Linked DNA regions of Homo sapiens: region 2 is linked to region 1. The links come from fine-mapping of genetic effects on gene expression. A gene starts in region 1. The other region holds a variant in brackets. All regions are shown on one strand. Distances are from middle to middle.

What was found. PIP is the estimated chance that this variant, and not a neighbour inherited with it, causes the effect.
Region 2: its variant is the best candidate, but not a certain one, in a credible set for the expression of GREM1 in prefrontal cortex (BrainSeq, PIP 0.63).

Annotation. Positions count from the first base shown.
Region 1 is chr15:32,717,046-32,719,843 of GRCh38, forward strand. It overlaps GREM1 (gremlin 1, DAN family BMP antagonist), which reads left to right and starts at 959. Exons shown (of 2, transcript NM_013372.7): 1 at 959-1,116. GREM1-AS1 (GREM1 antisense RNA 1) reads right to left here and starts at 1,820. Exons shown (of 2, transcript NR_109767.1): 1 at 1,500-1,820; 2 at 1,056-1,319. RefSeq lists enhancers at 465-965, 1,103-1,681, 1,682-2,259.
Region 2 is chr15:32,668,960-32,671,757 of GRCh38, forward strand. The region is part of intron 10 of ARHGAP11A-SCG5 (ARHGAP11A-SCG5 readthrough); the gene reads left to right. All of the region lies in intron 2 of SCG5 (secretogranin V), which reads left to right. SCG5-AS1 (SCG5 antisense RNA 1) reads right to left here. Exons shown (of 4, transcript NR_135505.1): 2 at 41-159. Among named protein-coding and RNA genes, the nearest start is that of SCG5-AS1, 2.7 kb to the right of the region's middle. RefSeq lists an enhancer at 1,223-1,755. The variant T/C (reference allele first, on the strand shown) is at 1,482.

The DNA of each region.
Region 1 (2,798 bases):
CGCTCATCTTTCGAAAACTATTTATGTACTTGGTATCCGGAATGTGACATTGGTTTTACACGTCGGTAGGTTTTTGTCCTAAATTTCTGGGAAGTTACTTCCTCATCTAACGTTTTATTTTCCTGACTTATTCGTCTTTGATATGCTACAGAAAACCCCTCTCGCCCAGTGGCTGTTTTCTCTCTGTCTCTTAAGATAATTTAGGAACAGAAGCCTTGACTTTTGACGGTCATTTAGTTTTATTCTCCTCCCGTGACTCCCCTCTGTACACTCACAGGGGAGGCCGCCGGCATCTGGGCTGAAAGAACCCTTGGCGGGCGAGGAGAGCAGGGTGTCATGTTGGCGACAGGCTCCTGCTGGCGGCCAGCGAGCCCGCCAGGTTAACGGGGGCGCCGGGGTCAGCGCCCTCGAAGTTGGGGGCCTCGGGCGGGGCCGCCGGGGAGCCACGACGGCCGCTCGACCAGAGCATCCCGCAGTCCCGTTCCCTCCAGAGGGGAAGAATGGCCGAATCTGGCACGATCCCACGGAGATCTCGCTCTTCCCAGCGCAGTCTCCGCTACTGAGCGCGGGACCAACGCAGGCGATGCCGGGCGGCCGACAGGGAAAGCCCAGACCTGGGGCAGAGAAGGAATGAGGGGCCGCCAGCCGGGGGGATTTCCTCCCGCTCTTCCCTCTCCAACGGGAGCGGAAAATGTGATTTGCTGTGCATTCCAGGCGCGGTTCCCTGGGGTGACCTCTCCCAGCCGGCCCGGGCGGGGGGAGCAGACAAAGAGGCGAGGCGGGCGGAGAGGGGACCCCGCGGGGAAGCAGGAGGGGTGCGGGGGGCGGGGGCAGTACCGGGAAAGGGGGCGGATAGCGGGTCTGGCGGCGGCGGCGGCGCCTGGCCAATGGAGAGGCGCGGCCCCGGGCGCCGCGCTCTGCCGCCGGCATTTAAACGGGAGACGGCGCGATGCCTGGCACTCGGTGCGCCTTCCGCGGACCGGGCGACCCAGTGCACGGCCGCCGCGTCACTCTCGGTCCCGCTGACCCCGCGCCGAGCCCCGGCGGCTCTGGCCGCGGCCGCACTCAGCGCCACGCGTCGAAAGCGCAGGCCCCGAGGACCCGCCGCACTGACAGGTGAGCGCGGACGCACCCGGCAGGGATGTGAGTGGGCGGAGGGAAGAGGGCCGCAAACCAACCCAGGACCCGCTCAGTTCCACGCGCGGCAGCCCTCCGTGCGCGCAGGCTCGGGTGCGTTGTTCGCGGGGGTGAATTGTGAAGAACCATCGCGGGGTCCTTCCTGCTGAGGCCGCGGACACCGTGACCTCGCTGCTCTGGGTCTGCAGGGAAACGTAGGAAAAAAAGTTGTCAGGAGCGGGCAGGATGACCCCCACATCCCGTTTCCACCTCCCGGAGGCCCCCGAACACGCTCCTGGTGCTGGTGGCAGCAGCGCCTGGCAGACGCGCCCGCTTAGCGAGGGCGCGAAGTCCAGGCCGCCAGAGCGCAGGAGCATCCGGACCTGCTAGTCGGCCGCTGACTGCGCGGCGAGTTGCCTTGAGAGGGTCCCATGTGCTTGGGGCGCCGCGCTGGGTCTGGGGGCGTCTTGGGGCGCCCATTGGAGTCCGCGGGTTGGAGCATCCGGAGAATCCATGATGTGTGCATTTGCCGATCCCCGAGGTGAGATGGAGACTGGCAAGGGCAGAGCCGCTGTGTTCAGCCACAGCGGAAAACCGAACGGTGGGTAATCCGACAGCTGCGGTGCGGGGCGCGGCCCTGGCCGCGGGGTCCAGCGAACCCGCAGTGCTCACAAGGCAGACACCACACGCGCTCGCGGACCGGCCACGCACTCGCGGGCGCTCGCTTCTCTACTCCAGCCTCTTCCCCGCCCCGCGCACGCCCGGGCTGAATGGTAGACGTTCTGGCGCCGGGCAGCGGCCACCGGCTGGTTCCCACTTCCGCGCGCACCCCTTAAACTGTGTTCTAGAGGCCCCAGCCTCGCCTTGCAGCGCCTCACTAGCTCCTGAGGACTAGGGACTGGCGGCTGAGGCGGGTTGGCGGCTGCAACGAGCTGGGCGTCTTTCGTTCTCTCTCGCTGCCTGGCTGGCTCCGCTGGCCCCTCCACAGCTTGCGGAGCAAGGCCATAGCAGGGGAGTGGGAGGTATATTGGGGCTGTCACCTCCTTGCTGGCCGGAGTTATTTGTAGACTACAGACTCCGGAAGAACAGACGCGCCACCGCTCTCGCTTGGCATTGCCTTCGGATCGCAGCTCCTCCTTGGGGGTGCCCCAGCTTGGCGTTTATTTGCCTGCGCCAGGCTCTGGCGACGGTCACCGGGCCAGGCGGGGAGGGACGGACGGCAGGTGACCAGCCTCTGCTGTGAAGAAATTCCTGCGCGCCCGGAGCTGTCCCTAATGCATTCCCGGGTCGAATCCGTCTACTGCCTTCCCCTCCTCGACCGACTCCGAATCTCGGCTCTTATAGACAGAAATACAGCCTCAGCGTTAGGGGTTAAAATCCCCCTCTTAAACGGTCCGAGGGCAGAGAGGTGACCACCGATAGGTAATTGGATCTCCTGCTGGAAAGAGCAAATCTGAGCGGTGTGCGCGTCTGTTTATGTTCCCCTTCGAGATGGTGCCAGGACACGAACTGATTAAAACAATCTATTGTGTTAAGTGGGTCACTAGGGTTTTAAGCTGTCCCAGGGACCCCAGAGTAGTGGCTTCCTTCTGGCTGTACACACAAGTTAAATAAATAGCGTAGAAGAGGTTAAGATAACCCCATTCTAGGGTGAGGAGTCCTCTTTCATCCCTAGGGCTTCC
Region 2 (2,798 bases), 48 kb before region 1:
TGCCTGCAGGATTGTCATTGCCATTGCCCCTTTTCCTTACCTGGGAACCCGACATACTCTGCTTATCCCTTGAGCTGGCACACCAGGGGGCCTGGAATTCCTGTTGGTGAAGTCACTACTTTAAGAGAATTATCCCAGAAATCCTCTAAGTTGCAAATCCTACAGGAGCAGAGTACTACATGTTAATTAGCACTCATTATCATGTTAGTAGAGAAGCTTACCCAAAGGAATGATACATAGGACCTGCTATGTCATTGAGAACAGAGAGGTGGGGCTCAGGTTCTGGACAAATGATGTCATAAGTAAGTGTAGTTTCAGAAAGGAAGATGAAGTGGGAGCTTTAGATAATTGGAGGCGGTAGGCCTGTATATGGAACCAGATGCTAGAGAGCCCAAGTCCATATTTTTACTTTTTCACAGTTTTGTGTCCATATCCTCACCGAATCCCAACCACCACCACCACAGTTCTATATCCCGTTATTTTTTCAATAATAACTGATACCTCAACTTAAGCTCCACTCTGACCCTCAGCTAAGCCATATAATTTCAGCAAGAATTATAAAATAAAGTTTTTAAAGGACAAACATGAGCCTTAACCTTAGTATAAAGACATGCTTAGCCTTCATACAAATTGCCAAGTTGAGACTTCATTTCAGACGGCAAATAAAAGTTACATGAAGGAGCTAAAAGTGCTATTGCAAATTACCTATTTGAAACGGCTTTTTCAAAACCTGCTAAATTCACACCTCTCCTAAAAATGCTTCACTTCCAGATTATTTTATTTTGGGGTTTTGTGTGTATGTGTTAGAGGGGGTGGGGTTTGTGGTGACTACAGAAAAATTAGTTAAATTCATAGGATAAAATTTGAACTTTTGCAAATGAGTAAACAGCCAAAACAAACACCGCTTCAGAAAAAAAAAAAAATACACGTTTTCTCCTTTTGGAAAGCAAGCAATGCTTAAGCAAAATACCTTAAAAGTTAACTAAAAAGCTTTTCTAAAATAAACAACTCTGCTTGTGATCCTAAATTGGGACCACATGTAGATGTGAAAGCTACAAATGCAGTGCACTCAGAATTTGCGTCTCTGCCTTCACTGTTTGCGTGCCTCTGAGTAGATGATGATAATGTTGGCTTTGGTCCCCAAGGAGCCTGAGTTTTTTAGATCCTAGTATGAGGGGGAAAAGCAGAAGAAGAAAGAGAAGGAATGAAAACAAATGCCTTTCAAGACAAAATATCCGAATGGGTTTCATTTTGCTTATCTGCCAACAGGCTCAACCCAATTTAGATCTCTCCTACAAGGACAGGATAGTGCCAGCCAGGGTGTCTGCCCTTGCCGGCTATGTGGGGCAGTCCCTGTGAGGGACCAGGCTCGAATTCAGAGCAGAAGGATCACTCTAGCAAACTGCCAGGGCCAGCCCTCTGCCCTGAGGCAAGTCAATGAATTAGCCAATTCAGCACAGATAGAATCATTCCTTTGTTTT[T/C]CTCAATTACCAAATGCTGTGTGCTTTGGGGGTCACTTGTCATGTGAGTTTAGAGAATGTGGATATTGCAACATAAACCCTCACCATTCTAAACAGCTTAAACTAAATTCTGTTACTAGGGAGGAGAGCTGAGGTGATAATATCCATCTCTAAGTATAAACTATTGTGTGTTCATTTTCCCATTATGGGAGACAAATTTCTCTTCTCCGCTAGTGCTCATGATCTCTTCCACCAGGCACAAACATCAGATGTGTGTTTATGTGGACATATTTTGTCCCCTATTATTGGAGAGCAAGCTCCTTGAGAGAAGGGATTATGCTGCCTGGATTTGTAACTTTGTTAGGCAAAGCATGACTTTATTTAGTTTTGAATTGATGAGGAGGCACTGATGTTAGTAAAAAGCTCAAATGTCCTGAGCCCTGTTGCTCAATACCTCAAACACAGGACCATGATCACCACAATGAAAAATATGCAGGATCATTAATTTCGGCTCTGTTAATTGTGCTGTTAGGAAATGTTGACTAGATAGGAAAAGCAGCTAACGTTCATGGAGTGCTTATTACATACCAGGTACTGAGGTAAGCATTTTACATACAGTATCCGATTTGTATCCTCCCACAAGCATGTTATCCCCGGGTTAAAAGGGGAGGAATTGGGGTCCAGTGAGATTGGGAGGTTATGAGAATCCCACAGTGTGTGGCAGAATGTGGACTTGAACTCAGGGCCCTAACAACAGGAAGCTATAAAAGCCTCTTTGTATAAAAAGTGCTCTCTTTCTGTGGGTCCTCAGTAAATGAAAATATTTGCTTTTCATAAATAGGTTTGAATGTTGGGACCCTCATTTCTCACCAGGAGTCAAGGCCAAAAGGTCTTATAAATAAGAGTGAATTTTGAGAAAGGATGTGTGAAAATGACTCTGTTCTTTTCTTTTATCTCACTTCAGTTACTTGGGATGGAGGAAGCAGAAACTGGGAGTCAGACATCTAAAATATGAAGTTCCACCCTCATGTTGGCCATTTCTTTCAGCCTCCTTTCCCCATTCCTAGGGGCCAATCTGTTTCTCCCTCTCCTGCTCTTTCTCTTTGCCTCTGTCTTCTTCTTTCCTGTGGAGACAATAGCGTGTGGTGGAACTGCCTGAGTGCTTACTGAGAAGGAGAAACCAAGCGCAGATTGTATAGAAGCTGACGAATGAGTCCTCTGATTGTGGACAAGTGATGGCGCTTTTTGTAAAATTGTGTATGTGTTTACCTCAAGTAGTGAAAAAAAAAAAAGAAAAAACAACTTTTGGGGCAAGTTGGACCTTAGGAAGGAGATTTC